3 separate regions of the Homo sapiens genome follow, and regions 1 and 3 are each linked to region 2. The links come from fine-mapping of genetic effects on gene expression. A gene starts in region 2. Each other region holds a variant in brackets. All regions are shown on one strand. Distances are from middle to middle.

Region 1 (8,183 bases), 48 kb before region 2:
ACTCAGACCTCGAGCAAAAGAATCTTGTAGTATTTCTGCCTTCACAGGCTACATCCCGCACAAAGCCGAGCAGTTAGCGGGTTTTCAGTAAGAGCTGTTTGAAGGAATGGCTTTTTTTTTTTGGAGACAGAGTTTTGCTGTTGTTTCCCAGGCTGGAGTGCAATGGTGCGATCTTAGCTCACCGCAACCTCCGCCTCCCAGGATCAAGTGATTCTCCTGTCTCAGCCTCCCGAGTAGCTGGGATTACAGGCATGCATCACCATGCCCGGCTAATTTTGTATTTTTAGTAGAGATGGGGTTTCTCCATGTTGGTTAGGCTGGTCTCGAACTCCTGACCTCAGGTGATCTGCTTGCCTCGGCCTCTCAAAGTGCTGGGATTACAGGCATGAGCCACCGCGCCCAGCAGGAATGGCTTCTCTTTCTCCAACTCTGGACCAGCTTCTTGTATGAGAGCCCAGTTACTTTTCCTTTATCGAGGTCTCTGTGGTTTTAAGAAAGATCTGCAAGTTCTTTGCTGCTCTCCTGAAGATGGGGAGCCTAATTCTTCTCCTGGGGTAGACTCAGAGACTGGCTTCTAAAAACATAAAGCAAAAGTGATGGTGTGCAACTGCAGAAACTAGGTCACAAAAGGCACTGGAACTTCCTGTTCTTTCTTACTTGGATCATTGCTCAGGGAAGACCCTTGCCATGTCATGAGGACATGCAGCAGCTCTGTGGAGATGCCCACGTGTGTGGAACTGAGGCCTTCTGCCCTCAGCCAGGTTGGAAGCCGATGCCCCAGCCGCATCAAGCTTCAGACAACTGCGGCCTGGACCAACGTCCTGCCTGTAACCTCCTGAGCCTCCCTGAGCCTCACCAACCACTCAGGCAAGCTGCTCCCAGAGGCACTGTGTGAGAACATAAAGATTCATCGTTTTAAGTAAATGTGGCCATATTTCCAGCAATAAACAACTGATACAGGCTTCAAGAGGACACTCTCTTATTTTTTCCTGGGTTTTGCAGCCAAGAAATAAAACAAAAAGTAAATATGGAAGGTGAAATAGCACTTTCATTAGTGATAAGAGGCCAAATTGCAGGATGTGACTTAAGCCAATTGAGCCTGACAATCCCAAACCCCAGAATTTAGGTGGATACCCACACAGACCCAAGGAACACTGGGTGGAGCAGAGACCTCCCCTTGCAGAGTAGAAGCATGAAGAAGGGGAGAAAACTTCTCAACAGGTGGAATCATGCCCAACAGAGACAAAAGTATGGATCTGAGCCAAAGATACCCAGGTATTCTCAAAATTAACAGTGGGAACAGGCTGGGCATGGTGGCTTACACCTGTAATCCTAGCACTTTGGGAGGGTGATGTGGGCAGATCACTTGAGCCCAGGAGTACGAGACCAACCTGGGCAACATGGTGAAACCCCATCACTACAATAAATAGAAAAATGAGCTGGGTGTGGTGGTGCATGCCTGTGGTCCCAGCTACTCGGGAGGCTGAGGTGGGAGGATTGCTTGAGCCCAGGAGGCGGAGGCTGCAGTGAGCCATGATCATGCCACTGCACTGCAGCCTGGACAACAAAGCAAGAACCTGTCTCAAACAAACAAACAAACAAACAACCTTCCTCCCCTCCCCACCAAAAAACCAGTGGGAACAGTCACTGCTCCTCCCCCACACCCACCAGGAGAGGAGGGAGCAGTGGGGCAGAGAGAGTTCCGGAAGTTCCACTCATTAAGCTTCCTTTGCAGGAAGGAAACATCAGAAATGAGGAAGACGGTTCCCCCGTCATATCCTTTCCTTACATCAGTGGTCCTGTCCTCTGCCCATGACATCTTTCTTCCTTGTGGGGTCAGTGACCAGATGACTTCTGCATCCCTGGTGTTTTTCTGATCGTCTTATTCTTCTGCCTGTCCCTACTGTGTCCTGGGAACTCTCTGTTAACTTGAGGCTTTCCACGGTGCTGCATATAGACAAGGCCCTGACTCAGGACACAGAGAGAATCATGATGCTTCCAACGAACTTGCTATTTTGAGAATAAGGTTTCATTTTCTTTTTTCCTGGCCGTCTTTGTCCAAGCCTTTTTTTTTTTTTTTTTTTTTTTTGAGATGGAGTTTCACTCTTGTTGCCCAGGCTGGAGTGCAATGGTGCGATCTCGGCTCACCACAACCTCCGCCTCCCAGGTTCAAGCGATTCTCCTGCCTCAGCCTCCCCAGTAGCTGGGATTATAGGCATGTGCCACCATGCCTGGCTAATTTTGTATTTTTAGTAGAGACAGGGTTTCTCCATGTTGGTCAGGCTGGTCTCGAACTGCCGACCTCGGGTGATCCGCCCGCCTTGGCCTCCCAAAGTGGTGGGATTACAGGCGTGAGCCACCGCGCCCGGCCTTGTCCAAGCCTTTGAGGCTATTGTTTTGTTAAATCATCCATGCGGATGGAACAAACCAACTTTGCAAGAATGTTGTATGAGTGTGAAATCTTCACTTAAAAAAACAAAACAAAACAAAACAAATACTTTCTAAGGGAGGATCCTTTTGTTTTATGGGTGGGAATGTGGTTCTGGAATTTACTTAATGTCCAGCAAGAAGAGGCAGTGAGCCAGCAGAAAATGAAAAACCTGCCATCCATTTTGATAGCTTGGTGATAATATATACATCTTCTGCATATGTATAGCTATTTCAAAGGCTGATTACATTTATTTCCTGTAAAATGGGAATCCAGTGAAATAGCTATACTTTCTTCTGCTGCTCTTTAAAATTCATGCTTCTCACCCACTGAATCACTAGTCAATGTCGTTGCATCTCCACCCTTGGATATTCCAATCCTCTCTTCTTCACAGTTGATTTGAAAAACAAAAAGCTTGCTATGAGTTAGTATTCAAGGCTGGTAGCCTTTAGGTCATCTTTGATATTTCTATCTAAATTATGTGTCTACAAAATCCTCATCATTCTTGCTTTTCTCTCTTAGATTCACTCTTCCACTTATTTTTTTCTTCAAATTTACACAAGGAAAACCTGAACGCAAAGTACAGAATTGCATAGAGTAAAAAGTGAGAGGTGCCCATGACAGTTGTTTGTTTCATGGCTACAGATTCTCCCTATCCCAATCCATAGGCCCTTTGGCAACGTAGCTGTGCCATGCATGTCACCAAGAGTTTCAGTCTGTTTCCTCATCCCTTGAAACCGGGCTAACTTCTGACTTGCCTTGAACAGCAGAGCATGACAGACATGATATTGTTGAGTTCTAGAGCCTCGGCCTTCAGGACTCCTGCTGCTTCTGCTTTGGTGGTCTTGGACTGCTGTCCTGGGACACCACAGAAGCCACTCTAGCCTCCTGGGTGATGAGAGGCCATGTGGGCACCTGGGGAAGCCCAGCTGGCAGCCAGCACTAGGTGAATGCAGCTGCATCAGTGAGTTCAGGGGAACCTAGTCGAGGAGCTACCAAGCCAACCCACAGAATCAGGAAAAATAACAAGTTATTGTTCTAAGACTCTAAGTTTGTCATGCAGCAAAGGACAACTGAAACTGTCACCATCACCTCTCTGTTGATCCCACTCTTCTTAGACCTTTTTCTTTTTTTAAATTTAATTAATTTTTTGGGGGGATAGGGTCTTTCTCTGTTGCCCAGGCTGGAGAGCAGTGGCACGATCATAGTTCACTGCAGACTCGACCTCCCAGGCTCAAGCAATCCTCCCACCTCAGCCTCCCAAGTAGCTGGGACTACAGGTGTATGCCACCATGCCTGGCTAATTTGTTATTATTATTATAATATTTTGTAGAGACAGGGTCTTGCTATGTTGCCCAGGCTGGTCTCAAACTCCTGGGCTCAAGCGATCCTCCCACCTGGGCCTCCCAAAGTGTTGGGATTACAGGTGTGAGCCACTGTGTCCAGCCTTCTCAGACCTTTTTCTTCACATTATCAATATCCATGTGTATATACTAAAGTTAAAAAAATCTTAGGAGGCTGAGGCAGGCGGATTGCCTGAGCTCAGGAGTTCACGACCAGCCTGGGCAACATGGTGAAAC[C/CCT]GTCTCTAGTAAAATACAAAAAATTAGCTGGGCGTGGCGGCGTGTGCCTGTAGTCCCAGCTACTTGGGAGGCTGAGGCAGGAGAATTGCTTGAACCCGGGAGTGGAGGTTGCAGTGAGCCGAGACTGCACCTCTGCACTCCAGCCTGGGCAACACAGCAAGACTCCATCTCAGGAAAAAAAAAAAATCGGTGGGATCACACTTTACATACTGACATATTTTCACATGATACACATGGATTGCATAATTCTTTTAAACCCCATAGAGTCCATCATTATACAGATGAGCCACAGTGTATTTAGCTAGTTCCTGTTAACGGACATTTAGGCAATTTCTATTTTTTCACTACTATAAACAGTGTTGCAATAAATGATCTTGTGCTTTCAAGTTTCTCTTCTCTGATCCATCCTGTTTACCACTGCCTGGGTTAAGGGAGGGGCAGAAACAGAATATCAGTAGGCACTTGGGGGCTTCTGGATAATTACTGCAGGGATTTGGTCCTTGTACCTGACCCCTAGAGGCTAACCTCTGCTCTCAAGAAAACAGAGATTTGTGCACCGCTGGCCACCACTGCTCCTCTCCCTCATTACCATCCTCTTGGGCATGATTAAAGGATTGGAGATGACACACAAAGATTTGTAAAGGAAGACGGAGCTACAGTTGCATATTAGGGATGCTGAAGAAGCACAGGGACCCCAGCAGCCTTCGTGGTGTGGGCCTATTTAAGAGGGTCTGCACTCACAGAGCACTCAAAATTCCCTGGAGTGGCCAGGCGTGGTGGCTCACACCTGTAATCCCAGCACTTTGGAAGGCTGAGGTGGGTGGATTGCCTGAGGTCAGGAGTTCAAGACTAGCCTGGCCAACATGGTGAAACTCCGTTTCTACTAAAAAATACAAAAAAATTAGCCAGGCGTGGTTGCAGGTGCCTGTAATCCCAGCTACTTGGGAGGCTGAGGCAGGAGAATCGCTTGAACCCAGGAGGCGGAGGTTGTGGTGAGCCGAGATCGCACCATTGCACTCCAGCCTGGGCAACAAGAGTGAAACTCCGTCTCAAAAACAAAACGAAACAAAACAAAATTCCCTGGAGTGTTCTGTGCTGTCTGGAGGTGTTTTTGGAATCTACCTAATTGGCCGAGGTGTTGTAGGAAAGGATATGGGGGAGTGTGGGTGTCTATGATGAGAGGAGGGTGCAGGGAATGGGCTTTGCATCTTGCAGAGGGATTTCTGCCAGAGGTGAGTGTGGGCACGTCACGGGGGCTGCTGACGGGGTGCTGTATGTGCCTGAGTGTGGATGTGACCAAACTTGGGGATATGTTGCTGTTAAATGAAGCGAGGCATTACCATGGCAACATAGCTCTCTGCTCCCAGCCAGATGCCAAGCCCTTAAATTATATTTTTCCGGCTGAAAGCACCTCAATTGCCTCTGGTCTCCAAAGCAATGGGACCGTGGGAGCACCAGATGCCTCACCGTTGTCTCCAACCTTTCGACAAAGCCCAAGAGGCGATAAGCAGGGGAGATGGCACAGGGGGCACGGGTGAATTTTGTTTGTTGGGGGGGGGTGCCTGGGAGTAGTGTCTGGTGAAGGGGGCTGGAGAGAGCCACCGACACACTCTACTTTTATCATCTCCTGGTCCAGTCACCTAGCACTTCATTCCAGAAGTAAAATGTGTATAATAACACCATTAGAGTTGCCAGTAATTTCTTCCACTAGATGAAGGGGTGGGTTGCCCCTCCACACCTGTGGGTGTTTCTCGTTAGGTGGAACGAAAGACTTGGAAAAGAAAGAGACACAGAGACGAAGTATAGAGAAAGAAAAAAGGGGGCCCAGGGGACCGGCGTTCAGCATAGGGAGGATCCCGCCAGCCTCTGAGTTCCCTTAGTATTTATTGATCATTCTTGGGTGTTTCTCGGAGAGGGGGAGGTGACAGGGTCATAGGATAATAGTGGAGAGAAGGTCAGCAGATAAACACGTGAACAAGGTCTCTGCATCATAGACAAGGTAAAGAATTAAGTGCTGTGCTTTAGGTATGCATACACATAAACATCTCAATGCCTTACAGAGCAGTATTGTTGCCCGCATGTCCCACCTCCAGCCCTAAGGCGGTTTTTCCTCTATCTCAGTAGATGGAACATACAATCGGGTTTTATACCGAGACATTCCATTGCCCAGGGACGAGCAGGAGACAGATGCCTTCCTCTTGTCTCAACTGCAAAGTGGCATTCCTTCCTCTTATACTAATCCTCCTCAGCACAGACCCTTTACGGGTGTCGGGCTGGGGGACGGTCAGGTCTTTCCCTTCCCACGAGGCCATATTTCAGACTATCACATGGGGAGAAACCTTGGACAATACCTGGCTTTCCTAGGCAGAGGTCCCTGCGGCCTTCCGCAGTGTTTGTGTCCCTGGGTACTTGAGATTAGGGATTGGTGATGACTCTTAAGGAGCATGCTGCCTTCAAGCATCTGTTTAACAAAGCACATCTTGCACAGCCCTTAATCCATTTAACCCTGAGTTGACACAGCACATGTTTCAGAGAGCACGGGGTTGGGGGTAAGGTCATAGATTAACAGAGTCTCAAGGCAGAAGAATTTGTCTTAGTACAGAACAAAATGGAGTCTCCTACGTCTACTTCTTTCTACACAGACACAGTAACAATCTGATCTCTCTTTCTTTTCCCCACACTAATTACTTCCTTTCCATCCATCCATTGTTCTTTGTTTGGTTTTGAAGAGTTAAGTCCTCTGTATCATCAGGGCCACAGGTAACTGATCTGGGGTAGACAACTAATCCAAAAAATGCCAAGCTGATTTTCTTTGAGCAATCGGGATTTAGGGCATCTATATGCAAGCAACCTGGAAAACTGGGGACTGAAGGTGCCATTTAGGGGCATCACTGTGCAAGTAAAATTAACAAAGAGGGTTGCAATAAGAAGGAAGCAGACAGGCAGAAAAAAACCAAGAGGGAGGGAGAGTGGGGGAGAGTGGAATATGGCAGCTGCTGTGAGTCCTGATGTTTTTACCAATTCTAGTTCCCAGTGAGGCTTGGCTGCACTTCCTACCCTTGGTTGTTTTTTGTAATTTAGTGGGTTTGTGTCTTGTAGTGGAATGATCCCTGATTAAGGCATTAGAGTATTTGGGTTAGGTTTGGCTTGTGATGCTAGCAGTGCCTTTTGGAGCCACATCCCCACTCAGGATAAACAGTGAATTCCTAGAAAAAAGACTGCTTGCATATGTGTAAATGCTTAAAAAGATGCTGTCCCCCTTCTCCAGCCAACTATTTGCAAAGGACTTCTGTGATATACAACAACACATTAACAGTATGATAAAATGTTCTTCATTCAACAATATTTAATTGAGCAGCTACTATGTACCAAGAACAATTCTAGGTGTCAGGGAAATAGCCCAGAACAAGACAGAAAAAAAAAAGAAAAAAGCCTGCTTTTCTTTGGAGGACACAAATAATAAAGAGTAAAAAAAGATATAATAGCAGATAGTGCTAAGGGCTATGAACAAAATAAATGATTTTTATCATGTGAGTCATACAGAATCATAAACTATTAAGGCTAAAAAGGTCTTCAAGATTTTCCAGATGCTCTTATTCCCACAAGACCAATGAAACAATAGAGGAGATAATAAACGGCCTTAAGCCAAATAGGAGGGTAGTGAAGCTAAGTCTAGCTCCTTCTTCGTCCGCTTTTATGTCACTTCCTACAGGAAGCCTGTCATTGCCATTTCTAGGTTAAATGCCCCTCCCACTACACCTTGTACTTGGCCCATGGGAGCATACTTTTATGGCAACCCTACTTACGTAGGTGTTTTTCCCACTCATGGAAGGACCCGAGGGCAGAAACAATGCCTGTTACATTCACCTAACACAGTGACTCACTTCACAGATGCTCAGTAGTTGCTGGATGAATAACAAGGGCTTGACACCTAACTGACAGCAGCAATACTGATGTTTATTTCACTCCCTTAGGCAATTCTTACACTACGTGACCTTCCAAAGGCAAAAAGAGTTGGTTAATAACACAGACATAGCATCACTGTCTTCAAAGACAGAGAAAAATCTTCCATAGCCAGAAACACGGTTTGTTCACGCTTTTCCTGTTGTTGAGCTTGGTGCCCTTCTGCTGAGCCCCTGTTAAAAATGAAGATATAAAGCCTGTAGGTCCAGTAT
Region 2 (8,183 bases):
GCGTCCAGCTTTTTTTTTTTTTTTTTTTTTGAGACAGAGTTTCCCCCTTATTGCCTAGGCTGGAGTGCAATGGCGCGATCTTGGCTCACTGAAACCTCCACCTCCTGGGTTCAAGCGATTCTCCTGTCTCAGCCTCCCAAGTAGCTGGGATTACAGGCACGCACCACCATGCCCAGCTAATTTTTGTATTTTTAGTAGAGACGGGATTTCACCATGTTGGCCAGGCTCGTCTTGACCTCCTGACCTCAGGTGATCCACCCACCTTGGCATCTCAAAGTTCTGGGATTACAGGCATGAGCCACCACGCCTGGCGAGGACTTTTGATGTCATTAATTGTAATTCTTTATTAAATATGTTCAGCCTTGATAGCAACAAGTTTTAAGTTGTTATGCCATTTGAGAATGTGACTAGAGGGACAATTATGAATTATTCATAACTATTATGACATTTATTACAATGATAATGATAAATTATTCTTCACAGCACTTCTGCCAAATCAGATGTTCAGAGTTGTGGCAGGGAGCCCAGAGGCAATGTCCTTATTTTTTCAATGGTCATGCCACTTTCAGCCACATTTGCAGGCACTGCTGACTCCTGTTCTATCCTTTCAAAACGGACGTCTTAGACAAGGTACAGTCTAGAATGGGTTTGGAAATGAAACATTTATCTGTTTATTATGTGTATCCTTTGTCTATTTACTTGCTCACACACAGTACCTTCTTTGAAGACATGAAGACATAAATGATTGAGTGATATTGCCTTCTCTGAGGTCAGTTACACTCACCAGGATAGCCTTTGAGTCCATAGGCTTGCCACTTGCTGACGGGCTGAAGACCTGCTCTATATGCATTCTGCTCACTGACAGAAGACACATTTAGCTGAGATTTGATCACCTGGCAGGAAGGAAACAGAAGTTAAAGGACTAAATCTATTTTGCAGGTCAACCCCGGGAACCTCAAACCTCCAAACACATTTCTTGTATGAGGCAAAGCTAGGATTCTTGTTTAAGATACAGAACCTTGCTCTATTGCTCAGGCGAGTGCAGAGGCATGATCATAGTTCACTGCAGCCTCAAGCTCCTGAACTCAAGTGATCCTCCTGTGTTGGCCTCCCAAAGCAATGGGATTAGAGGTATATGCCACTGTGCCTGGCCAAAGCAAGGAGTATTAACTCTGGGGTTAATCTTAGCTGTACTGCTTACTTGATCTGGGCATTTTAGATGAGTCATTTAATGTCTTAGAGCCTCAGTTTCTCATCTATATAGTAACAGTAGAGTCACCCAAAATTAAGGCAAAATGGTAATAAGAAAACTTAAGCAGGCTAATTTTGGCTTTCAAAACTACTTTTTCCTATGACATCATACCTTTCCAACTTCTTATGGGGCTGAATCATGAAAGGTGCTTGGTGTACTGAAATATCTTGAGTCACAAAGCTATTTACTTCAGTTAGGGCTAACAGTAATGCTTTTGAGACACTTGTATAGAGTTGGTATTTAAACAGAGCTATAAGGAACACCAAGCTGGACAGGGTGAGAAAATGAAAAGAGAAGGCCGGTCGCAGTGGCTCACGCCTGTAATCCCAGCACTTTGGGAGGCTGAGGCAGGCGGATCACGAGGTCAGGAGTCCGAGACCAACCTGGCCAACATGGTGAAACCCCGTCTCTACTAAAAATACAAAAATTAGTTGGGTGTAGTGGCGGGCGCCTGAAATCCCAGCTACGAGAGGCTGGGGCACCAGAATTGCTTCAACCTGGGAGGTGAAAGTTGCAGTGAGCTGAGATTGTGCCACTGTACTCCAGCCTAGGAACAGAGCAAGACTCCGTCTAAGAAAAAAAAAAAAAAAAAAAAAGAGAATGAAAAGAGAGTGCTGTAAACAGACAGAAAAAATGTTGCAGTGAGACACTGGGAATCCTGTCTGCTAAAAGTAAAAGCTAAAAAATCCTGTTTGCCCTCTTCTAGATGAAATGTCCAACTGACGCTACAACTTCTGCTTCTGTTAATTACTTAGAAATGAATTTAGTATTTCAGGGGCTGAAGTTTTCTTTGTATGTGAGTATCTAATGGATGGCTCATTACATTGGTTAAGAGACCCACTATGCAGTCATTGAAGTCAAAACATTAAAGGAAAAAACCTTTATTCTTCCCTGAATAGTAAACCTAGGGTCTGCCTTGCCTTAAAATATATGAAACAGGCCGAGCGGTGGCTCACACCTGTAATTCCAACACTTTGGGAAGCCAAGGCAGGTAGATCACCTGAGGTCAGGAGTTTGGGTCCAGACTGGCCAACATGGCGAAACCCCGTCTCTACTAAAAATACAAAAATTAGCCAGGCATGGTGGCGCGTGCCTGTAGTCCCAGCTACTTGGGAGGCTGAAGCAGAAGAATCATTTGAACCTAGGAGATGGAGGTTGCAGTGAGCCAAGATCACGCCACTGCACTTCAGCCTGGGTGACACAGTGAGACGCTGTCTCAGTAAAAAAAAGTATATATATTATATATACACACACATATATACACACACACATATATATATATATGAAACATTCTCTTTGAAAGAGAATGATCTTTTATCTTATCAACTTCTCCAAGTGTGGAGATTCCTGGACAAAATACCAAAAGTTTGCTGATGTATAACCAGTCTCTATAATAAAAGGGCTATATGAAACCCTCTGACAGTACTATCAGCTGAGTTTTCCAGGTACCTAGGCACTGGTAAAACACTTTTAAGCATTTTGTCATGATTTCTTTAATAGGCCATACTTAATACTGCACTATAATTCAACACACTCTCAGAGGTGATGTTAGTGGACCTATTCTATCATATGCTAAACTGAACGACACCACTGAGCTTTTATAAAAGGTTTTCTCTTTCCTCCCTTGCCAGACTGTTAACCACCACTTTCCCCACCAGTCTCATCAGCTGGCTTGTAATAGTAACTTCTCTTAATTACTACTTTAATCTGCTTTGAGCTGAGGAACTAAACACCCAAGCTTTCATGTACTCAACACATACTGTACTTAGTACTGTTTTAGGTCCTGTACTAGACACATAATGGCTCATTCCCTGATGGCTGACATTCTAAAAAGCATGTACATATTATGGTAAAATGTAGGTAAAAGGAGCTGAATGAGAGTCTGAAGCGCTCTGGAGAGAAAAAGTATATTATTATTGGGGTGTGGACTTTCTGTATTTTGACAACTCTAAGACCACTTTTTTTCCCTAACAAATGAAGGTGCTGAAAAGCTGAGCTCAAGTATGCAATCATTAACACTTAATACTGTAGCATCCCAATTTTATCAGAGCTGTTAGGAAGCTTGGAAAGAATGCCTCATCTAGACATCTGTGGACAACACCAAGAGCAAATTAAGGGACTGCATATCCTCAACGTTAAAGTGGATTGTAAAGAAAGAAAATATAAATTGGACTACAGTTTTGGTTCCCCGTTTTCCCTCTTGCCTGTTATGTTCCCTTAAAAAAATAATTTTTAAAAAATCTATTTACTTGAGAACAGGTTATGAGACTGGCTAATTTTTTGTATTTTTGGCGGAAACGGGGGTCTTGCCATGCCCCAGGCTGGTCTCGAACCCCTGGGTTCAAGCGATCCACCCGCCTCGGCCTCCGAAGTGCGGGATTACAGGCTTGAGCCACCGCTCCCGGACTGTGTTCCCCTTCTTAATCTCCATGGGGAAAAGCTGAGAGAGAGAACGGTGCCTGTATTCCATATATACTTGTTTGCCATTTATTTTCAACACGGAGGGATTCTCAGAATCCTTCAATGACCTCCTTCTAAAAGAGCCAGAGGAGAAGACAGGGACTAGTTTTACGCACAGTGGCTTAACAAACAGCGCCGCATCCCTGTCAGTTCTGGGATTCCTCGGGAGTGGTTTTTTTTAAGCTGCAGAAGTCTACCCTACCGTCTACAAAGACGTTCTATGGGGTTTTACAAAAACCCAAACAGAAATGTGAGGAGACAGTTACAGTAAGAAATAAACACGGATTCCCAGGCTCTTTTGACTGAGCGCCCCCGCCAGGAATGGCCGCCTAAAGAAACAGGCATCTCAACGCTTTATTGCTAAGTGTGACGGTTAGTGGGGAGTTCGACTCTGCAGCCAAAGGAGGTCAGGAATCGTTCAATAACAATCGGTCTGGAGGTGAAAAGAGGCGAAGAAGACACGTAAGTCCCTCCAAGACGCGGGGCAAAGCGATGGAGAGACGCGCGCCACTCCTCTCTCTGTACCTTTTGGGCACCAGGACCCTTGCCACGGGCTGCGTGGGCCGCCGAGAAGTCGATGACCCCTTCCAGGTCTGCGGTCCCGGGCCGGCTCTGACGGTAGAAGCGGAAAAGTTTCCGAAAGGCGTCCTCCCCGGGCTCAGTCGCCAGAGTCGCCACAGAGCCCACGGCCGCTGCCATCTTCCCCATCTCGCGGCCTATACCCTCTGATCCGGAAGCAGATTCTCTCGTGTTCCGGATCCGGAAATTTTTTCCGGGGCCGCGACCTCGGCTCGAGAAGGTGCTTTAGTCTGAAGATGGCGGCCTCAGCAGCGAGAGGTGCTGCGGCGCTGCGTAGAAGTATCAATCAGCCGGTTGCTTTTGTGAGAAGAATTCCTTGGACTGCGGCGTCGAGTGAGTGATGGAGATGTGGGAGTAGTGGAATTTTTAGGTCCAAGTGATCCTCAAAGCTTCTGCTTTTTGCAGGGTACTTAAGTCAGCGTGGTGGCTGAATTAGGAGACTGCTCCTGAGCATGCAAGTGAGCAGAAAGAAATTTTGTTTGCAGTTAACCGTTTAGGGATGTCCCTTGAGCTTTTGGGGTCACGAATGCACCGGCTCTTGCCTTTAGGAGTGATTTGGTGTAAAGATTTATTACTTGGTAACCAAGATTTACAATTTAGAAGGGATAATTTTGACTGTAGTGTGGAGGATGGATTCAAGGTGGCAAGATTGTAGGCGTGCAGAGGAGCTAAAAGGCAATTTCATTAATTTACTTAAAACGTGAGGACCTGAATTAGGGCGATGGTAGAAGGATGGTGGTCAGATGCATTAATGTTTTAAAAGCAAATTAGATGCCGTTTCGTGATGGCTTAAGTGGGAGAAGTGTACGGAATAAAGGAAAGGGAGAAATGATTTCTGGGTTTTTAGCATTGGTGAATTGTTTGTTTAGAAGTTAGGAGCAGGCCAAGAGAAGATGAGTAAAGTTTGAATGTGTTGACTTTGAGAAACTTGTGAGGTTTCCGTCAGGCAATTGGACAAAGGTTGTATATCATTGTGGCTGAGAAGTGGACTCCGAAGCTAGACCGTTGGGGTTAGAATTCCAACTTGGCCATTTAATCGTTGTTATCACTTGAATAACTGAAGTTAGTATGGGAAAAGGGCTCACAACTGGGCCTCAGTTTACTCATCGATAAAATGGAGTCAATAATACCCAACTCATAGGATTGTTGAGAGGATTGAGTTTATATGCAAACTTCTTAGACTTGTGTTAGATACAGTGTAAGTACTCAGCAAATGATAGTTATTTTCACGGTAACTAAAATTGAAACTTACGGGAGAGGCCTAGTCTACAGATAAAGGTTGGAATAATTAGTTCTGAAATCTTTCACCACCTTCAATTTTTGTCAGCTGCAGTTTTGAGATGAGGTTTTTATATTTGCTTACCAACATGTAAACATTCGTGGTCACTCTTTTTGTAGATATTCATGTTTCAGGTCAACCCCTGGAAACAAAATGGAGCAAGATTTAGTTTCTTCTAAGTTTTTAGTGGCTCAGATGTGAGTAGTAGAATGGGAAATAGGTTGGTTTGTGCCCCGTGTTTTAAACATGTGGTTGGTGAAGACCAAGCCCAGTAAAGTCTCCCGTAGTCCCTGTGAAACTTTATGGAAAGGCTGAGGAGTTTCATTAGCATCTTGCGGATGCAAGTTTCCAGACAATAAAGGGCTAGTTTAAAACCCTTAAAAAGAGTCAGCATTATGTACAGCTTCGAAACAGTTTCTCTTTGTTGTTCCATTGATTCAGCAAATATTTATTTGAGTATCTATTCTGTGGTAGGCATTGTTCTTGGTGCTTGCAGCTGTTTTTCCTTCACCATTTTAGGCAATTTAGGAAGAGGGTTACCTTCCAGAGCTGGTTTGTTTTGAAATCAGTGTCTTCTAGGACTTTAATTATCTGGTATAAAACATATGTTTAACATTATTTTGTTCTCCAGTATCATATTCTGTGAGACCTTGATCTTGCCAGTTGGTTTGACTTAACCATTAGAGCCCTTCAAAATTTAGTCTCTGTGGATTGTTGGAAGGATTAGTGGACTTTTACTTATTCATTTAGCCAATATTGAGGCCCTGCTGTTTATTGGTCACTGTAAACATAGTGGTTTATATGCTGAGGGAGCTTACAATTAGTGGTGGGGATGAAGAGACTTAGAACAAATATAGGCAATTGTTGAACCAGTGAGGTTTTGGTGAACTAGGAGAACTAAATAGATATTATAAAAAGTAAATCAGTGAAGTACAAGCACTGTAGTTCAGAAGAGAAACAGATCGTGTAGTTTTTAGTCTTTAAGATTATATACTCTAAATCTTTGAAGTCTCACAGGGCTGGTACATTGTCTTGTACTGTGATAGGAGCCCAATAAAGTAATACTCAGTGGATGTACTTGGTTTGGGTCTTGAAGGATAGTTATAGTGTTACAAGTTAGCCAGGGGGAGATAGGATTACCAACATATGGAGGGGAGAGAACAACATATGCAAAGAGGGTAACCCGCAGGACAGATAAAGATAATTCAATTAGTTGTACTAGAGAGTAACTAGGGGCTAGCAGTGGGAAATAAGGCAGGAAGGGTAGGTGAGGGCAACTCAACACATTTTACTAAATTGTGAAAGACCAGTAAGTTGGGATTTTATTTGGAAATCTTCAGTATACCGGGAAACACACTGGATTGTAATTTGTCTTTTTCTTCATTGTGATCTGCTCACAGGGATCATAGTCCACATAGCACAGTAACTGGTATGAAAACACTCGATATTTGCTGAGGATGGAGACTGCAGCCAACTCAACAACTTCTCTGTCCATCTCACCACCAAGTCTGGTACATTATGGCTTTATAGTCAGTACCATAGCTGCTTCCTAAATCTTAAGCCTTTAAGGAAATGCAAAGTAGTTCCTGTCCACAAGAAATCTGGTGACCCTGTCTTTCTACAGTCTAAGATAGAGAATCCAAAATATAGTAACTACTTTTAATGTTTTCTTCTGCCACACAGGTCAGCTGAAAGAACACTTTGCACAGTTCGGCCATGTCAGAAGGTGCATTTTACCTTTTGTAAGTATTAAGGAAAAGTAGGTGGGAGGTGGGGATGGCTAATGGGTACAAAAAAAATAGAATGAATAAGACCTATTTGATAGTACAACAGGGTGACTATGGTCAATAATAATTGTACATTTTAAAATAACTCAGAGTGTAATTGGATTATTTGTAACTCAAAGGATAAATGCCTGAGGGGATGGATACCCCATAAGTCAAAGGATAAATGCTTGAGGGGATAGATACCCCATGCTCCATGATGTGCTTAATTTACATTGCATGCCTATATCAAAACATCTCATGTACTCCATAATAAATATACATATTTATATATATAAATATATAAATATATACACCTAATAATATATAAATATATATAAATATATACCCAAATAAATATATACACCTACTATACACTCACAAAAATTGTTGAAAAAAAAGCTTAAAGTGTTTTAAAAAATTCTTATCTTGCAACAGGGTCTCGCTCTGTCCCCCTGCAGGGGTGCAGTGGCCTGATCTCACTGCAGCCTCTGCCTCCCAGGCTTAAGTGATCTTCCTGCCTTGGCCTCCTGAGTAGCTGGGACTATAGACATGTGCCACCATGCCCAGCTAACTTTTTTGGTATTTTTTAGTGGAGACAGGGTTTCGCCATACTGTCCAGACTGGAAAATTTTTTTAATTTTCATTTTCTTTAAGAGACAGGGTCTTGTTCTGTCACCCCAGGTGGAGTGCAGTGATGCAGTCATGGCTCACTGCAACCTCTGCCTCCCAGGCTTAGGTGATCCTCCCACCTCAGCCTCCTGAGTAGCTGGGACTACAGGCATGCACCACCACACCTGGGTAATTTTTGTATTTTTTGTAGAGATGGGGTTTCGCCATGTTGCTTATG
Region 3 (8,183 bases), 24 kb before region 2:
GAATGAACAATTGAAATACATGGAGCTTCTTTTACTCCAGGCAGATATTACATAGAAAAATAAGTGCTCTTGAATGTGGCTTTTGTTGCACAATAAAAATTAAAAAAAAGAAAAAGAAAAAGAAAAATATATGCTCAACAAACTCTCACTAATAATGGAAATAAAGATGGTGAGAACTGCTCTTGAAAAGAGTTCTATATTCCTGGAACCTACTGTGAGAAAGCACTGGTGACTTCTGATATAATAAAATTCATTCCTCTTGAGATACCTGAGGAGAGATTTTTTTTTTCTTTTCTGAGACAGAGTCTTGCTCTGTCACCCAGGCTGGAGTGCAGTGGTGCGATCTTGGCTCACTGCAACCTCCACCTCCTGGGTCCAAGTAATCCTCTCACCTCAGCCTCTTGAGTAGCTGGGACTGCAGGCATGTGCCACCAGGCCCGGCAAACTTTTGTATTTTTTGTAAAGACAGGGTTGTGCCACGTTGCCCAGGCTGGCAGCAAACTCCTGACCTTAAGTGATCCGCCCACCTCAGCCTCCCAAAGTGCTGGGATTACAGATGTGAGCCACGGCACCTGGCCCAGTTGAGATTTTTTAAGGAAATAAAAGAAAGGGATCCTCCCACAAATGTATAATCTTGATATCTTAAGCGTGGTTAGGAAGAAATACAACTATGTGGGCTAAAGAAGCCTATAAACAGAAAACAAAAGAATTAAGAAAACCTGAATACCTTACTGTCCCAGTTATAATGGTAGCCTACGGTCACCCAACGCAGTTTCTCCAGTAAACTTCGGGGTCTCCGTTTAGTCGCTTCTTTATACCTGCAAAGATTGGTGACAAAAGAGGAATTATTCATGTAAAATGGCAGCAATAGCCGTTTGTATGGACTCTGGAGTTAAAATTTAGTATTACATGGTATAAGCCGTTAGCCAAGACTCAGTAGGAGAAATTAGAAGAGATAAATGAGTAGACCACAGATACATTAACAGAGAAAAACATGTTAGCACTTCTAATTTATAATCCTTTGTTCTAAATCCTCTGCTGAATGGGGTCAACTTTAAATCACAAGCCTCCAGCATCTTGGTAATGATAAAATAAGAATGACAACAATGACAAGAGAAATGTCTTTACCTGTCCATGGGAAATGGTACCAAGAGCACTATGGGCAATCAAAAATTTGACTTACAGAACATTTTCAGTTTGGTTTGCTAAAAGCAGGGTACAGTTAATCACAATGATTTCTATGTCTATAATGAGGGTGGCTTCCCAGAATTGCAGGTTGGGGAAAAAAAAAGTTTAGCAAAATATAGTGTATAGTACAATAAAAAATAACTGGTTTAACATGACTTCTTTAACTCTGTATAACATAGCTTAGATAACTGAGGCTTAGCTAACAATTAAGGCACCACTGTAACTGATTTGGTTTCTGACATACCCTTGTTCAAACCACAGGAGGTTTCTGTACAACCGAGACGTGCTCTTTCTGCAATTACATCTCATCTGATCAAATCTATGTGATTAACTACTCTTTTTTTTTTTTTTTTTTTGAGACAGAGTTTCGCTCTTGTTGCCCAGGCTGGAGTGCAATGGCGCGATCTTGGCTCACCACAGCCTCCGCCTCCCAGGTTCAAGCAATTCTCCTGCCTCAGCCTCCCAAGTAGCTGGGATTACAGGCATGCACCACTACGCCCAGCTAATTTTGTATTTTTAGTAGAGACGGAGTTTCTCCATATTGAGGCTGGTCTCGAACTCCTGACCTCAGGTGATCCGCCTGCCTCGGCCTCCCAAAATGCTGGGATTACAGGCGTGAGCCACCACAACTGGCCCACTACTCTTTTTCTAAAAAGGAAGCTTGTTTGTTTGGCTCACCTCCAAATATCTAAAAATATGAGAATGGTAGGTCTAATGATTTAATTTTTCTCTGTTATTTACATCATTGATCAATCAAAAATTTTTTTGTCCAAAACTATGGCTGTGTAAAAAAGAAAAAATCAGATTCCTTTAAGGAATCTGATTGTGACAGGAAATGGCAAATGTAATAGAAAGTCTAAGGAGAAATTAGAGGGAAACTGAACGCAGTATAAAGTCTAGTACTAAAGTAAACAGCAGACTTTGAGGGGCACGAGAATTAAGAAAAAGGAGAGCTCAAAGTCAGCTGTCGAATCAGTTGGGGCTTCTTGGCAGAGTTGGGAGTTGAGCACGGCACTGAAGAATGGGCAGCATTTAAATAGGGAGTGATGCAGTAGGCAATATGGGCACACAGCACAAGCAAAAGCAAAGGATTTATTGAGACCCACACTGTTCAGTGGCACTCATCTTGATGTTTGACGAAGAGTTTACAGAATAGATGCTATCTGTCCTCACAGAGTTTACATTCTAAGAAAGACATCATGACACATACATACATCAAGACCAGCAGATAAAAAGAAATGAACACACACTGATTTATTTAGGACAGGTGTGCAGAAGAGACATAGCAGACTTGACTGATGGTCTGCTTACAAAGATGGTCCTTGGCAAGGTTCACACAATTCTCTGGAAGTGTTAAGAGTGGCTTACTGCACCTAAACTGTGCAAACAATATGGTTTATGGTCAACACCTGCTTTGCTTCTGGGAGTCTGTGATTTTGGCATGTGTCAGGCAGAGGCTGCCTACATGACAAGCTCCTAGTAAAAACCTAGGCACTGAGTTTCTTTGGTAAACATTTCACAGATTTTGTCACAACCCATTGCCATATCCGGTGTGACTTCCTTGGGAGAGGACTTTTGGAGGCATGCACCTGGTTTTTCCTGGACTTTGCTCCAGGTGCCTTTTCCCTTTGCTGATCTTGCTTTGTATGCTTTCACTGTGATAAATCTGTAAGTGCAACCATCTGCTGAGTCCTGAGTCTTCCTGGCGAATCATCAAATTTGGGTGTGGTTTTGGGGACTCCCTGACACAACAGGAGACAGATAACTAATAATTTAGGGAAAAATATAAGGCTTGGCCACTGACAGCAACTAGCTGATTTGAACAATTACAATATGGATAACAACCACACATTATTTTTGTGCATAAAAACTGAAATATGAAAAAAATGTAATGTAGTTATTAACACAACTTGAGGTCTACCAATGTTTATTCAGCTAAAGGTACAAATAAAAGAACTCCTTGATGTTCTCCTCTAGAGAACATGTTCTATTTTAGTAGCCTGAGACAGAAAAATAAGTATGACTCATGTGGACTTTGTGGTTAATGGAAATATAAACGTAGTTCCAGAGTTACATAAGCACCTTATAGAGGTGATCCATTCTATTTCTCTTTCCAAGGTATTACTTTGTAGCCAATTCCTTATTTTAAGGTAATCTCTAGGATACAAGAAAATGCTGTTGAAGAAAAGGATGATGATGATGATCTTATGAATATTGAAGCTATGCGTTTTTGAGGAGGGGGAAAAGAGAGATGGTAGAAGTGGTAGTAAAAGATGAAAGAAGTTGGTCATCTAAGACTGGAATCTAGAACTCAAAATAGATGGCACCCTGAGTATCTAAATGGCAAAGAGTCTTCTCAAAAATTTTATTTTTTGGAGACTGTGTCTCATTTTGTCACCCAGGCTGGAGGGCAATGGCACGATCTTGGCTCACTGCAACCTCCGCCTCCCAGGTTGAAGTGATTCTCCTGCCTCAGCCACCCAAGTAGCTGTGATTACAGAATGCACCACCACGCCTGGCTAATTTTTGTATTTTTTGTAGAGATGGGGTTTCACCATGTTGGCTAGACTCATCTTGAACTCCTGACCTCAGGTGGTCCACCCGCCTCGGCCTCCCAAAGTGCTGGGATTACAGGCGTGAACCACTGCACCTGGCCTATTTTTATTGTTTAATTAAAACAAAAAAGAAAAATATAGAGATGTAGTCTCACCATGTTGTCCAGGATGATCTTGAACTCCTTACCTCAAGCAATCCTTCCGCCCTGACCTCCCAGAGTGCTAAGTGAGGCATCACACCAAGCTGTAAAGTCTTTTTTTTTTTTTTTTTTTTTTACAAACAGTCCAGGGGTATTTTAACACCTATTATGCTATGAATCCATAGAGAATAGGTTCCAGCAGCTCAGGCTCCTTCCCATTTGTTCTCACAAAGTGTGCTTCTC[T/C]GGGTGGGGCAGGCTGGCACTTCAGTTGAACTCAGGTACCTTTCTCTTTGGGTTCTTTTTCTGATCATTTTACTACACGTTTCAGGAAGCTATCTCGGCTCTTAGAGTGCTTAATGTGCTCAATGCGCACATTAATTCTCTTGGCAAGAGTCTTGCCCTTAACTTACTTGTTCACAACAATGCTAACAGCATGCTGGGGAACACTGTAGACTCTTCCAGTTTTGCCATGGCAACATTTATGGGCCATTCCTTTTTGAACAGTACCCATTCCCATTCCCTTAATGTCGACAACATCATCCTCCTTTTTTTTTGAGATGCAGTCTTGCTCTGTCACCTAGGCTGGAGTGCAGTGGTGCAATCTCGGCTCACCGCAGCCTCCACCTCCCAAGTTCCAGCGATTCTCCTGCCTCAGCCTCCCAAGTAGCTAGAATTACAGGCATGCACCACCACGCCTGGCTAATTTTTGTATTTTTAGTAGAGACAGGGTTTCCCCATGTTGCCCAAGCTGGTCTTGAACTGCTGACCTCAGGTGATCCAAACGCCTCAGCCTCCCAAAGTGCTGGGATTACAGGCATGTGCCACTGCGTCCAGCTGACAATATCATCCCTCTTACAGATGCGCATATACATGGCCAAAGGAAAAACTCCGTTTTCTAAAAGGCCTAGAAAACATCTATCAGGTACTTCTCCTCTTTCCCTTTGTCTTCGTCATTTTCGCAAATTACTGGAAGATGGCAGTTCCAGCTGAAAAGCGCAGTCTTAAGAGCTCTACTGAAAGCCTTTACAGAACCTGTCTTAATTACAGAACCCACTTAATTTTTGCCGAGTGTTTCTCAAACTTTAGTGTACATCAGAATCATCTAGAAGGCTTGTTGAAACTCACATGGCTGGGTCCAGGCCTATAAATTCTTATTCAGCAGGTCTAGGGTGGGGGCCTAAGAACTGCATTTCTAGTAAGTTCCCAAATGATACTTATGCTGCTGGTCCAGGAATTACACTTTGAAAACCACTATTCTAGCCCAAACTAAAAAACAAAACACAATACCGTCTGTTTCTTTCTAGCTCAATAACAGATTGCTTTATTCTTTTTCTTTTTTTTTTTAGACGGAGTTTTGCTTTTGTTGCCCAAGCTGGAGTGCAATGGTGCGATCTTGGCTCACTGCAACCTCCGCCTCCCAGGTTCATGTGATTCTCCTGCCTCAGCCTCCCAAGGAGCTTGGATTACAGGCATGCACCACCACGCCCGGCTAATTTTGTATTTTTAGTAGAGATGAGGTTTCACCATGTTGGCCAGGCTGGTTTCGAATTCTGGACCTCAGGTGATCCACCTGCCTCAGCCTCCTAACAGTCACAGCTTGCTGCAGGCTCAAGTAATCCTCCCCACCTCAGCCTCTTGAGTAGCTAGAACTACAGGTGTGTGCTACCATGCCTGGCTAATTTTTAATTTTTTTGTAGAGACGGGGTCTCTCTATGTTGCCCAGGTGGGTCTTGAACTTCTAGCTTCAATCAATCCTTCTGCGTTGGCCTCCCAAAGTATCGGTACTACAGACATGAGCCACCATGCCCAGCCTCATTTTATGAAGAATCCATACTATTATATCAATGTCAGACTGATCTGAAACAATAAACATAACAATAATGCTGCTTTGGAAATAATTCAAAAGGTGACAGTATTTTAGACATTTGATATGGCCGCAACAAACTGCTTTTCCACCAAAAGATTTAGTCTAATATTCAAGAACAGAGAATACATTTTATAAACACAGGTTTATGTTATTAACAATAAAAATTATCAAAATTATAGTGACAGCATGAATAGAATCATCCTGTAATATACCTTTTCTAATTTAGTTCCTTTCCTAAGAAGCCAAAATAACATCTCTCACTGGGAGCGGTGGCTCACGCCTGCAATCCCAGCACTTTGGGAGGCTGAGATGGGCGGATCTCTTAAGGCTAGGAGTTCAAGACCAGCCTGGCCAACATGGTGGAACACTGTCTCTACTAAAAAACCAAAAACTAGCCAGGCATGGTGGTGGGTGCCTGTAATTCCAGCTACTCAGGAAGCTGAGGTACAAGAATCGCTTGAACCCAGAAGGTTGCAGTGGGCCAAGATCATGCCACTGCACTCCAGCCTGGGCGACAGAGTGAGACTCCGTCTTAAAAAAAAACACAAAAAAAAACAAGGACTCTAACTGTATGATTAAAAGAAAGGCTTTGAGCTGGGCGTGGTGGCTCACGCTTGTAATCCTAGCACTTCGGGAGGCCGAGGTGGGCAGATTGCCTTAGCTCAGAAGTTGGAGAACCAGCCTGGGCAACATGGTGAAACCTCGTCTCTACTAAAAATACAAAAAATTAGCCAGGCATGGTGGTGCACGCCTGTAGTCCCAGCTACTCGGGAGGCTGAGGCAGGAGCCTGGGAGGAGAAGGTTGCAGTAGACCAAGATTGTGCCACTGCACTCCAGCCTGGGCAATAGAGTGAGACCCTGTCTCGGGGGGGAAAAAAAGGCTTTGAGTTTTTGCGTTATATTATAGAGGATGACTGGTCCAGGGATGTAAAACAAGCCAGAGTCGAGTCTTACATTGAAAAGCATTAAGTTCAGTCCTCATAACAAAAAGAAAAATTGTGATCTTTGAGTGTCTATGCCATTTTGGGGGCAATGACATATATATTTTTGTAACGTATTAGACCCATGTAAGTGCATTAGACCCTCATTTTATATTCTCTTCTGAAAACCTGATTTCAATTCTTGCCTTTGTATTTTCTGAAAGGAAAGTAGCAACAACTCTTAATATCTGCCTTCAATATGTTGAGAGCAGGACTGGCCAGCACCAAACATTTCTTGTCTTAGTACTATTTAAGGACCCTTCTGGTTAATCATGGGCCTCCTGAGTAACAAAAATTCCAAGATTTGTTCTTGAACACTGTGAATAGTAAGACCAAAACCATTTAACATGCTTCCGGATCATTTTTAAGCATAAAATACTGAGAGAATCACTGAAGGGGGTGGGTTGTTCTCTTTTTAAACCTGACTTGTCCAAAAGGAGGTCAAGAAGGATCAGTACCAATACAACTCTCACCTTGAAGAATGCAGGAAATACGTTGGCACCTAATACATCTTTATCCAATTATCCAAAAGAATGTGTTCAAGCAAACATGACCCTAATTATTGGGTCTCACTAAAAAAGAAACATGCTATGCTCCCTGCTGCCTTCTCCAGGCACTAGCAGAAGGATGATGGATGGGTGGGTTGGCCACCTTCTCCCCTGGTGAATGTGCTCATACAGCAGTTTGCTTGGTTTATGTCATGGGTAAGCGCCTTATGTAAGCGTTGGCATTTCTCTTAGCAATTGTTTTTTTCTTTTTTGAGACAGAGTCTCGTTTTGTCGCCAGGCTGGAGTGCAGTGGCGTGATCTCGGCTCACTGCAACCTCCGCCTCCTGGGTTCAAGTGATTCTCCTGCCTCAGCCTCGCAAGTAGCTGGGACTACAAATGTGTGCCGCCATGCCCAGTTAATTTTTGTATTTTTAGTAGAGATGGGGTTTCACCACATTGGCCAGGATGGTCTCGATTTCTTGACCTTGTGATCCACCCGCCTTTGCCTCCCAAAGTGCTGGGATTACAGGCGTAAGCCACTGTGCCTGGCCACCCCATTCTTTCAGTGTTTGAGTGCTTCCAGTTTTCTCTCTCCCTTCTCAACTTGACACTCCCAGTCACTCACTGCAAATGGACATCCAATGCCACTGTAACTGCTAACATCCTCTTGCTATCCTGCAAATATTCAGTCTTATCTAACCGTCTTCTGTTCTAAACCTTCACCATTCATCTCAAGTCCTTAGTTTTGTTCTTATTTCCTTCTATGTCAGTGAGAAAACAGAAGCCTGCTCAAATGATCCAGTGAACAATTTCAACTTTCCTCCCCCACACCACTAAACTTCTCTAAATTTTCACCTGATCCTCCTGGTTTCAGAAGTGGTCCTACTTCTTTCTTCCAAAGCTAATTCTCTACCTATACTATATCCTATTTCCCTGACACAGCCTCTGAGGCCTTTCTCCATTAA

Alleles and levels. Alleles are on the strand shown, and positions count from the first base shown. SD is a standard deviation of normalised expression in the study named. Not every link is listed here.
In carriers of allele CCT in region 1, the expression in thyroid of the gene that starts at base 4,439 in region 2 tends to be higher than with C alone (small effect, 0.36 SD a copy in GTEx).

The links. PIP is the estimated chance that this variant, and not a neighbour inherited with it, causes the effect. A credible set is the group of variants that fine-mapping cannot tell apart.
Region 1: its variant is the best candidate, but not a certain one, in a credible set for the expression of ALKBH1 in thyroid (GTEx, PIP 0.74).
Region 3: its variant is the best candidate, but not a certain one, in a credible set for the expression of ALKBH1 in whole blood (TOPMed, PIP 0.58).

What each region holds. Positions count from the first base shown.
Region 1 is chr14:77,655,678-77,663,860 of GRCh38, forward strand. No RefSeq gene overlaps it. Among named protein-coding and RNA genes, the nearest start is that of SPTLC2, 43 kb to the left of the region's middle. RefSeq lists an enhancer at 6,811-7,642. The variant C/CCT (reference allele first, on the strand shown) is at 4,009.
Region 2 is chr14:77,703,585-77,711,767 of GRCh38, forward strand. ALKBH1 (alkB homolog 1, histone H2A dioxygenase) reads right to left here and starts at 4,439. Exons shown (of 6, transcript NM_006020.3): 1 at 4,238-4,439; 2 at 785-893. The coding sequence starts at 4,420. SLIRP (SRA stem-loop interacting RNA binding protein) reads left to right here and starts at 4,519. Exons shown (of 4, transcript NM_031210.6): 1 at 4,519-4,624; 2 at 7,254-7,312. The coding sequence starts at 4,528. RefSeq lists an enhancer at 4,073-4,402.
Region 3 is chr14:77,679,153-77,687,335 of GRCh38, forward strand. ALKBH1 (alkB homolog 1, histone H2A dioxygenase) reads right to left here. Exons shown (of 6, transcript NM_006020.3): 4 at 728-818. It also overlaps the pseudogene RPL21P10. Among named protein-coding and RNA genes, the nearest start is that of ALKBH1, 25 kb to the right of the region's middle. RefSeq lists a silencer at 3,111-3,311 and enhancers at 6,026-6,527, 6,528-7,027. The variant T/C (reference allele first, on the strand shown) is at 4,127.